Linked DNA regions of Homo sapiens. Changing the gene in region 1 together with any one later gene gives a genetic interaction. Each region holds a gene or a part of one and is shown in the gene's direction. Other genes may lie near its edges.

Region 1 (3,649 bases):
TTTCTAGTTTCTTCTTTTTACCCCAAGGTTAATCAGTTTTGAACAGCTACTGATAGTATTGGTTTGATCTTCTACAGCAGCAAAGAACAGTCACTTGAGATCTGTGGCCTAGGTTTGACCTATTCCTCAGGGCTCCACTGACCTTGAAGGCCTTGTTTGATCAGTGCTGGCATTGACCTAGAAACTTCAGTTGTCTTCCTCCTTTATGGACTTGTCAAGCCCTTCCTGCAGTTGATCATTCTGGGCAGTTAACTTGAGTTGAAGTCGTATATAAAATGCCTTATTCTGAAGTAGAGCTTAGACCCTTAGATAACCACCCATTTTCTTTTAGATGTGTCTAGAGAAGATCTTGTTAAACTCAGCAACAAAAGCCCTATAATTATTTTGTTAGCTGGATTCCAGCAGGCATAACATAGCTTGCTGGGTGGCATAGCCCTATGACAGCTTGTACTAAAACAGACCCAAACGTGTTCTATCAGGAAATCCTTAGATCTCCATCCAAAATGCAATCGGCACTACACTAGAAAACTTGCTTGTCTCTCTTGGATTCTATAAGACCTATAGGACATTTTCTCCTTAGAAGTTTAAGATTGGAATCTACTCTGGCAATGTGGTGGCCTGGAGGCATATGTGCAAAGGGCAATTAATTATTTGTTTAAAATGAAGTGCCATGTATTTATAGGCACAAAAGAGGTTTTACATTAAAAAGTTAAGTCTCCTTTCTAACCCTTCTACTTTCCTTACTCAAACCTTTAGAGGTTGCCAGTGATACCATGGTCTTGGGTATCTTTCCGGATATATTCAGTGTACACATAGCCTGTACAGTTACATTTAAACATATGGTAGCATGCATATATTCATACTGTTCTGCGCTTTAAAAAATAACTTAATGGTCAGCCTTGGTCATTACTCAATATTTACAGAACTCATTCATTATTTTTGTGGTTACATACTATCCCATTATTTGGACATAAAATAATTTATTTAGCCAATCTTCACTGATGGAAATTTAGGTTGTTTCCAACCTTATACTATTAAAATAATATGTTAATAATCATTTGTATGAATTTTATTTACTACATATGTGACTATATCCATAAGGTAAATTATTAGAAGTAACATTTCTGGATCCAAGGTGTGTGCATTTTAAATTTTGATAGTTTTTGCCAACCTGCTCTTCAGGGATCTTATGCTAATTTTAACTCCCCTGCCCCAGCAATGTATGAGAGTGCCTGCTTGTTTTATCCATGTCTTTGTCTATACATTCCCTTTCATACTTTTTGATCTTTGCCAATCTGATAGGTAAAAAATGTTATCACAGTTTTTAATTTGCATTTTTCTTATGGCTAACATTGAACATATTTTTATCTACATGTATTTCCTCTTTAGTAAACTATCTGTGTATCCTTTGCTCATTTTCTTATTGGGCTATTGGACCCCTTCCTGTTGATTTGGTGGAACTATTTATATTTTGAGGAAATTAAAGCTATTTTATATTGAAAAAATTAGTTCTTTTCTATGATATGAGCTACAAATGCTTTTTCACATTTTGATATGTCTTTTGACTTTATGGTGTTAAGAATTCGTTGCATGCCGTAGAATTTACCAGTCTTTTATGACTTCTGGGTTTTTATCATATTAAAAAATATGTGTTCTCCTATATTTTCATCTAGCATATTTGGGGTTTTTTTCTCATTTAAATATTTCTTATTTTGGTCTTAGGTGAAGGGCATTCTATTTAGATAACTGGAAGAGTTTTGGCTGTGAGGAAGTATTCTCTTTATAATGAAAGTTGTTTGGGTTATAACAGCTGGACATTTCTTATTAATTATTCTTCTACAGTGACAGAGTGAAGCATCATGCTTTGTGGTGAATGGACAGCAAGGAGACCTAATAGCTGAAGTGTAGTTGGACTTGGAGCAATTTTAAGTTACAAGACTACTGGCAGTTTCAGAGGGCCAGGTCAAGACTGGCCAAGTTGCCAGAAATTAGTTTTTCGGGCAGTAGTAAAGACCACTTCAAAGGCAGTCTCAGCATGGTCAAAGCTCCAAGAAGAGAGCATTAACAGAGGTGATTTTAGCATTTGGAGAACTCCAGATGAGCTATGGTGTTCATGAAGATCTTGAGTTGTTTGTGGACTTCTCTCCTGAGGTAGCTGCAGATTACCTGATTGACTCTGTTCATTGAGTTCAAAAGAGGGTCTCCAAGGAATTGAGTGCAGTGGTTCTCAACTCTGGCTGCTGTGCTGGAATCTGCTAGGTAGATTCTGACTTAATTGGTCTGAGGTGAGACACCAGCAACAGTTTGAAAACTCCACAGGTGGTTCTAATGTGCAGCTTGGATTGAGAACCATTGTTAATGTAGTCAGTTTGCTGTCTCTTTGAGTCAGGGATTGCAGTACATGCCTCAGTGCTTCCAAAATGTGCATACATATCACCTGGGGATTATGTTTTAAATGCAGAATCAGGAGGTCTGGGGTGAGGCTTGAGATTCTGCCTGTCTGTCTTAATGAGCTCGCAGCTTATGCTGTGGCTGGTCCCCAGACCACACTTGAGTGGCTTGAGTTTGTTACTTGAAGTGCAAAGCACTGGCCCACACCAGTCCACGAGAGTCAATAAGCCATGGTCCTGCTCTCTTGCAGAATTTGCTTAGTGTACTACAAAGAATACTCAGGTCAAGAGATCCGCTTTCCACTTCCTGCTCTGCCTCCAACTAATTAGTGTAAGACAAGTTTCTTAGAAGTGCTTTAGTCCTTCACCCTCTTATCTCTAAAATGAGAGGCTTGAATTGGATAAACTTGAAGGTTCCCTTTGTTTTTAAATCCTCTCATGCTTGTCCAGGATGTTTTCAGACTCTTTCTGGATCAGGTTGTTATGTGGGATGGAATCTGGATCCTGTAAAGACCTTGTCATCCCTTAGAGGATGGAGGCCTAGGCCCTGAGCTTATGATCTAGTGGGAGAAATAAAACTAACAAATGTTAAAAAATTAAAGAAGAGTTAAATGTTCAAGTGTAAGCTATGATAAGTACAAAAAGAATGCAGGGAAGCTAGAGAGGAGTGTTAATTGGAATGGTCAGGAAAACTTCATTGCCAAGGGGGAATTTGAGTTGACATCGTTTTTTCCTGGGCTGGGTGGACTGCAGGGCTGACAAGAGTGGTGGTTCTCCTGCTTTTGAGTTTGCTTGTCTCTAAAAAAGCATCCTTCAACAGTGAAGCACAAAACATATTTTTCTGCCTTAAATTAAAACAAAGTAGAAGAAACATCTAGTTCTGTGGAAGTCTTTAAAGGGAAATCAAAATCCAAAAAACTCTATATTTAATTTTTCAAGGCTAATCTTGACTGAGAAGATTGATACTGAAAAAAAATCACCACTACCAAATATAGAGCAAAAAACCCAGCGTACTTCCGTATCGATAATAAAAAAATGGTATTAGAAATTACCTAAAATGTAAGTAAATTCCTCAAATTATAAGTATTATTGAAAGTGACATATCTCTTTATCTTAACTAATTGGGAAAGAGACCAGATAATTTATTTAGATTTTATAACATAGGTGCACACGAATTTTTGACTCACCTCTTTTAATGTCAAAGGAGATGTATTTTGCATTGTTATTAGAATTTTACTAAATTTTATGTTCCCTTAAGA
Region 2 (3,749 bases), on another chromosome or scaffold:
GTGGAAAAAGCTAGGGGAGGGAGGCTGGGGAAACCTCTGTCGTCTTCAGCTCCTTCTCAGCCCCAGGATGCGCTTTCCATACAGCCTTCAGAAGTTAAACAGTAAAAGCAGATGCCACTCCCTGAGCAAACTCACTCTGTAGCCTCCCATCAACCCACAGTGGCACCCACCCTCCCGCAGCCAGGAGGTCCTGTGACCTGGCGCTCGCCTGCCCCAGCCACGCCGGCGTCCCTGCCTCGAGGCCTCTGCCTGGCACCCCCAACCCCCAACCTTGACCTGGCTTCAAGTCTTTGCATCCCAACTCAAAGAGAACCTCCTCCACCTGCCCTACCTAAGGTGCCCGAGCACTCTGTCAAACTTCTCGCTTTCTTCACCTGTCTCGCCGGAAATCTCTTTACCGAAAACCACACGTGCTAAGCAAAAACACCAACGGTCAGGAGCTTGCAGAACGGCCTCTGACTTACTCCTGAGGCGGTGAGCGCACAGCAGGAAACCCCGCACGTTCACGCAAACACATCTTGCAGAACTGGCGCGGCGCGGCGGGAGGACAGGGGCAAGCCTAGCAGAGGAAACGGGAGCTCTGCACGTGCAGGATCCAGACCCCTAGGCGATGAAACTGCAGACCTGGCAGCGAGGCGCGGCTGTGACCCGGGAACATTCGCTGAACGAAATCTTCCGGGGCGACCGCCGCACTTAAGAATCCGCGCAGCCTACCCTCTCACGCCGACCACCCTCCCGCCCGCCGAGGCTCACCTTCGGCGCCTTCCTCTTCCCGAACCCCCCCAGCACCAGGCCGGGGACCAGGGGTCCGGCCGCCTCCTCCAGGGCCGGTCCATCTGGGGCCGCCTCGGCGCTGGCGCTGGTGCTGCGCTCCCCCGGCGCCTCCTCGCTGCTCCCTGCGCTGGGCTCCCCTGGCGCCTCCTCGCTGCTCCCTGCGCTGGGCTCCCCTGGCGCCTCCTCGTTGCTTTCTGCGAGGCAGACACCCACCCGGCAGCGCGTCAGCACCGAGTCGCCGGCGCCCCAGAGGGAGCCCGCTCGCCCCGCGGCCCACCTGCGCCCGCGTCCTCGCCGTCCGCCTTCCGTCGCTTTCCCTGCGGCGCCTCCGGGCTCCCCGGCTCCGCGTCGTTCACCCGCCGCCGCCGCCGGGGCCGCCGTCGCCTCCTGGTCGCCGGCTCGGTCGATGCAGCCGCCTCGGTCTGCGCGGGCTCCCGCTGCTGCTGCCGTTCGCGGGCCCGGCTCTGCAGCCGCTCGAGCAGCGCGCGGGCCCTGCCGTGCGCCCCGGCCTCCGCGCCCTCCGGCCCCGCCGCAGCTGCCGCATCGGGGCCCGGGTACCGCGCGACGTAGAACAGCGCCATGGCCAGCCGCACGCCTGGGACTCGGGCGTGGCGCGCTGCGATGACGTCGGCGGCACGCCTGCGACTCGGGCTCCGCGCAAAAGATGGGGTTGGGGTACGGCGCGTAGAGATGACGTCGGGTTCTACGCGCAGTGGTGACGTCACGGGAGCGCCGGCGGCTGAGAATCCGCGTTGTTCCGTGTTGGGGGCGGCATGGAGCGGGAGCCGGGCGCCGCGGGAGTTCGCCGGGCTCTGGGCCGCCGGCTGGAGGCGGTGCTGGCGAGCCGCAGTGAGGCCAACGCCGTGTTCGACATCCTGGCCGTGCTGCAGGTGGGCCTGGCGGCGTCGCAGGGCCGGAGTCGCGGCACGGGAGCGGGACTTGAATGGGGGGCTGCGGCGGCAGGTCCCCAGGAGGTTCCGAGACGGCGTTGGGGGGTCAGGGTGGGAGGCGTGTGGGTCACGGGTCGGGGGTGACGGGGCTGGCGTCCCGAGGGGGAAGGGAACGGGTTGGGGGCAGCCTAGGCAGGGGCGAAGGTGACAGTTGGCGGCCGGGCACCCTGCCGCCGCCTCTCCTGCAGTCTGAGGACCAGGAGGAGATCCAGGAAGCAGTCCGCACGTGCAGCCGTCTTTTCGGGGCCTTGCTGGAGCGGGGAGAGCTGTTTGTGGGCCAGCTGCCCTCTGAGGAGATGGTCATGACAGGTGAGCCCTGGAGGGCCCCGGGGCTGCTCTTCTCTTTCCGTGGGTCGGAGGGAGGCTTTGTCACCATGGGATGAGCGCCCCCAACCCTGGCACAGGCCGTGCAGGCTGGTGGGAGGACGCACCAAGCCCACCGTGGAAGATGGATGGTGGCGTTGGGGCAGGGGTGACATGGGTGCCCTGCAGCTGAGTGTAGATGAACACTGGACAAGGTACGACTTTTTGTGTGCTTTGCACCCCTTTTGTAATTTGATGTTGACTGATCCTGACACGGTCGCTTAAACTCGGAGCTTCCTTTATGTCCCCATCCTGGGGACGTCAGGTCTTGGAGTAAAGAGAGGGGATGTGGATCCTGCTCCTGGCAGCTTGGCTGGGGCAGTCCTGGGGTAGGAGGTGCTCTTCCTGTTTGCAGGGCTCAGGGAATGTGCTGGTCTCAGCACAGGTCTGGGGGCCTTAGCGACCTGTTTCCACCTGCGGAGGCTGAGTAGAAGACAATGGGAGGGTGGAGCCAGGCCTGAGATTTTGGGCTGGGCCCAGGGTGGCGTATGTGGGCCTCACGTGGGCTGACCACCCTAACCTGTCTGCAGGGTCCCAGGGAGCCACACGGAAGTACAAGGTGTGGATGAGACACCGCTATCACAGCTGCTGCAATCGCTTGGGAGAGCTCCTGGGCCACCCCTCCTTTCAGGTCAAGGTGGGTCATTGGGCTGGCCTCATCCTTGTCCATCCCCTGCACCCCAACTCCCAGGTTATCCACAAAGCAGAGGTCTGGGGCTCCCACAATTGTCCAGGCAAAGCTGCTTCCTTCATGGGAGCATCACCCTGTGGGTGTTCAGTCCCATTCAGAAACATGGCTATCGAGTCCTGTAGTGAATATTGAAGACGCAGAATCCGTGTTCATTTCCAGTGGCATCCACGGGGATCTCTGTGTTTGCATAGAGCACGCACACCAAGCCTCGTGCCAGTCCACAGATGTGTTTGCTCAGATCACACTGTGGTCTGCAGCCATGGGAATGCATTATGAGCTTTCTTAAAATCTGTAGTGAGGAATAACTGAGGCACAGTTTACCGTTTAAAGCTGAGAAGTTAGCATCTGTTACTGTGTTGTGCAGTGGTTGCCGCTATCCCAGAACATCTTTATCGCCCCGAAAAGAAATCCTGTACCAGTTACCATCGCTTCCATATCCCGCCCCTTTCCACCCCCAGCCCCAGGCAGCCACTCCTGGATCAGTGGTTACTTCCTGGATCAATGGGTTTGCTTTTTTTAGACGCTCCTCATAAGGGGGATCATACGGTATGTGGCTTCTTCCACTCATCGGCGTGTTCGAAGTTCGTTCTCTTTGTGGCTGAGTAGCAGCGCGTCGTATAGCACAGCACGTATCGTTCAGCCGCTCGTAGGTTGCTGGGCATTTGCGTCGTTTCCACCTTTGGCTGTTACGAACAGCGGACTGTGAACGTTCGCGTACAAACTCTTGTGTGATGTTTCTTTTGCTTGAATATGCCTTATCAGTGGAATTACAAGGCCACACAGCAGCTGTGTTTTTAATGTTCTGAGGAACTACAAGACTGTTTTCCATAGTAGCTGCGCTATCTTACCCTCCCCCTGGCAGCATTTGAGAGTTCCATACTCCACATCCTCGCCAACACGTCTGTCTATAATTATAGCCGAGCTGCAGACTTTTAAATGTTGGGGAGATACCACGTGAAAATAACCAGTTT
Region 3 (3,408 bases), on another chromosome or scaffold:
GAGGCAGGGAGTTATTTTAGATTATGGGAAATAATTTTTAAAGGTATTGGTTAAATAACGTTTAAAAACATGTACTGAGATGAATCTAATTTTTAGATTGCCCTGTATTTTGTTAACATGTATATATGTACAACAGTGTGTTTGTAAATATATAGGAACGTTTCTGAACAGGGTCTGTGCTATGTGTAAAGGTTTGTTAACTGTAAAGTAATATAAAGTTATATTGGATCTTCTATTGCACTAATTCTAGATGTCTAATTCAGGATACTGTCTATAGAAAGGCATTCTTAAAAGTTAAAGAATGTTACGTCTTAGTTTTGGAGACTAAAGTATTCCCAGTAAAGTGGGTTGAGGTGAGGGCTGTGGTCCTGAAAGGGACGCCTTTGACATCGTGGCTGTCCAGTTGGGCTGTGAGCTGTGGCACCCAGGACTGGCGCTGGCCCTTCAGAAGGATCTAGGAGAGGGGCTTGGGAGCCCACTTTTAATTTCTCACCCCCATTTTACAAAGAGTGCTTAGATTCTTACAAATTATGATGTAAGTTATCCATTTGGCTTTTTCCTAACTAGTCTTACCAAACTTAGGGGGAAACCTGTGCTCCATTACCACATGGGTGCAAGTCAGCATTGTAAGTTTTCTCAGGTTATTATTATTAGAGAGGTTGGAAACATTGGTAAACTCTGTTGATTGAGAAGGAAAAAAAAAGTCCCATTGAACTGTTGCAACAAATCAGAAATCCACATAAAAGTGCTCTCCTGCCTGGGCAGCAACAACCAAGAACAAAGCCCCGGGACTGTTTTCTTTTTAATAAAGCCACAGGCAGGCATCGTAGCTCCACAGCCCGAGGGGACACAGGATGGAAACCCCAGGATGAGAAGGGAGCAGGGAGAGTTCCAGAAAGGGGGATGAAATAGGAGTATTAAAAAGCTGCGTTGGTAAGTTTTTCATGGAACCAAGATTTGACAAAGGCATCTCTTATCCTTGGTTTTAAATTCCTGCTGGGAGCAAGGCCTGGTATGAGCGCCCTGGGTCTTGTTTTTGGTGTTTCGCTTTTCTGTAAGGATTAAGCAGATAGGGAGAAGGGAAAAGGGGCCTCACTTTAGAATGAATGAGTCACCTTGTGATTTTTAAATTTTTATTTTAATAAAGCTAATCAATTTCTACAACCTTGTCACATGTAGCTGAGTCTGGGATGACTCAGTGGATCAGTGGATGCGTGGAAGGTTTTGGTGTTTATAACTCATGACCCAAATCCTTCCAAGACACAAATGAAGCTAATCTTCTTCCCCTCCCTTTCCTCTCCCACTTCCCCTCTGTGTCTGTGTCTGTGTGTGTGTGTGTGTGTGTGTGTGTGTGCGCGCGCGCGCGTGCATGCAGAGAGGAAGGAAGGGAGCTTTAGCACAAGTAGCTACATAGTGTTCAAGGATCAGCTTTCTTGAACTCCGAGGCTTGGTTGCCTTTGCTGAACTCCAAGTTAGTGGATTGCAGAATGGAAACTTGGCTTTTGCGGCACTGGGTGAGTTTTAGTTTGTGTGTGTCTTGCTGGGGGGTGGTGATGATTGTCTCAGCACTCACGCACTGCACAAGATGGCAGCAGGATACAGCACTGCACAAGATGGCAGCTCCTCTGCAGCTTCCTCCTCAGCCTCCCTCCTTGCACCCCCACAGGTTTGGCTTGTGGTTTTTGTCATCAGTAACCTACTGCCTGAGATCATGATCTCTTAAAAGATGAGACTCTCGGAAGGGTTGATTGTATGCGTCAGTGAGCCTTCTATCACCTTCTGGAACAAAGTCACTTGAAATCTCTTGATGAGATTAAGGAGTTTAGTGTTACTAAGAAAATCTGCTTTGGGCCGCAGCAGTGCTGGGTGTTCTCAGACCTGACTGAGGAAGTTAGCTGCGGGCTGCCCTGTGGGCTGGTGCTTCAGGAGGAATCCAGAGAAGTGTTCAGATGCCCCCCTTGGGCTCCTTTCTAATTTTAATCAGCTCTTTAAATAGCTGCCCATCTCCTGTGATTGCACAACCAAGCACTTTGACATTTGCACCTTAGGAGAGGCAGATGTTAAAATGGAATCCAAAGACCACCTAGGGCGGGGCTGGGTGGGAGATGGGAGGGCCAACTGCGAGCTGCTCCACTTCTCAGCTCTCCCCTGCCCTGCAGCCCTGGGCCAGACAAGGCCAGAAGGTTTCAGGGGCATTTGACATCCCCTCCTGGTTCTCACCAGGAAAACATCCAAAGCTTTGGAGGAAACAGGCCCTGCCCCTGGCTCCTTAAATGCCCCGTCTCTTTGTAAACTGATATTCAGCCAGCAATGCCTAAGACTTTGTTAAGATCATTTCTACTGCTTTTCTTTCTGCTTCAAACACACAGTTCGTCTCTGAGGAAAGTAAAATAAATGGAATAAGAGTAAATTGGGTAAGGAGATATCCAAAGCTACCCAGTCCCTTGACCCAGCACAGTTGGCCGACCCGTGTCACTCCCTGGCTGTCGCTGCTTCTCTGTGCTCACTGAAGGGTGAGCCAGGCCAGTGCTTCCCCAGCCCCTGGGCCTGGTCACTACACAGTGGAAAACAGACAAGCGGCCCCTTCCCCAAATCCCAAGAGTGTCTTGCTGCTTGGTGGGTGCTCATCGCAATGTTCTGAAGGCTCCAGGGCCACTTTGTTTGTAAGTATGATCTGGGCCTCAAAATACCATAGTAGCTGCTTGATAAAATTCTAAAAATATCTGGTTCTCTATTATGTAAACACTATTACAGTCACCAGTGTGTGAAGACTCTTGAGTCTGGTTCTCATATCAGAGTCATCATTTTTCTTCCTGTGGAATAAAATGCCTTGTGGACTTCCCAAACTTGTTCTTTTGTTTTCTTCTGGTCTCTTGGTGATCCACAGCTTCTAGAGCTATCACCAGTGACAAATACCAAACATAGTGTGATGTTCACAATAAAATGTGGCCTCTGCCCCCAGGCCTGGGGAAGCACCCCCACACCTTAACCAGTCTCAGCCTCCCAAGAGTAAGTAGTAGTCTCCGCGCTACACTGGCTGCTGATCAGTCCATTCTGAGGTTCCTGGTCCAAGCCCCAGCAGGACAGACGTCACACTTAGGGTTTAGGCAGCTGAAGAAGAAACAGCAAAGGAGGCCGGGCATGGTGACTCATGCCTGTAATCCCAGCACTTTGGGAGGCTGAGGCAGGCGGATCACAAGGTCAGGAGATTGAGACCATCCTGGCTAACATGATGAAACCTCATCTCTAACCCCGACTATATCGCCCCTCTCTATTCCATCCACTCCACCTCAAAATTAATAACCTTGTGTGTCGCCCAAATTTTCACCACGTTATATAATTATGTGTATAACTAAAACTACAAAAAATTAGCTGGGCATGGTGGTGGGCGCCTGTAGTCCCAGCTAC

The links.
Region 2: of ATG10 (region 1) and NOC4L, changing one suppresses a phenotype caused by changing the other (phenotypic suppression), as found in Homo sapiens cells (one large-scale study listed by BioGRID).
Region 3: of ATG10 (region 1) and VPS13D, changing one enhances a phenotype caused by changing the other (phenotypic enhancement), as found in Homo sapiens cells (one large-scale study listed by BioGRID).

Annotation. Positions count from the first base shown.
Region 1 is NC_000005.10:82,051,886-82,055,534, forward strand, and holds part of ATG10 (ubiquitin-like-conjugating enzyme ATG10), read left to right. Parts: intron 1-3,346; exon of another isoform or gene 3,347-3,449; intron 3,450-3,649. UniProt on the Homo sapiens protein: E2-like enzyme involved in autophagy. Acts as an E2-like enzyme that catalyzes the conjugation of ATG12 to ATG5. ATG12 conjugation to ATG5 is required for autophagy. Likely serves as an ATG5-recognition molecule. Not involved in ATG12 conjugation to ATG3.
Region 2 is NC_000012.12:132,142,942-132,146,690, forward strand, and holds the start of NOC4L (nucleolar complex protein 4 homolog), read left to right. Parts: upstream 1-1,515; 5' UTR 1,516-1,547; coding exon 1,548-1,664; intron 1,665-1,912; coding exon 1,913-2,033; intron 2,034-2,617; coding exon 2,618-2,724; intron 2,725-3,749. Other genes in the region: ATP-dependent RNA helicase DDX51, read right to left, coding at 754-968, 1,052-1,355.
Region 3 is NC_000001.11:12,509,202-12,512,609, forward strand, and holds the end of VPS13D (intermembrane lipid transfer protein VPS13D), read left to right. Parts: 3' UTR 1-2,846; downstream 2,847-3,408. UniProt on the Homo sapiens protein: Mediates the transfer of lipids between membranes at organelle contact sites. Functions in promoting mitochondrial clearance by mitochondrial autophagy (mitophagy), also possibly by positively regulating mitochondrial fission.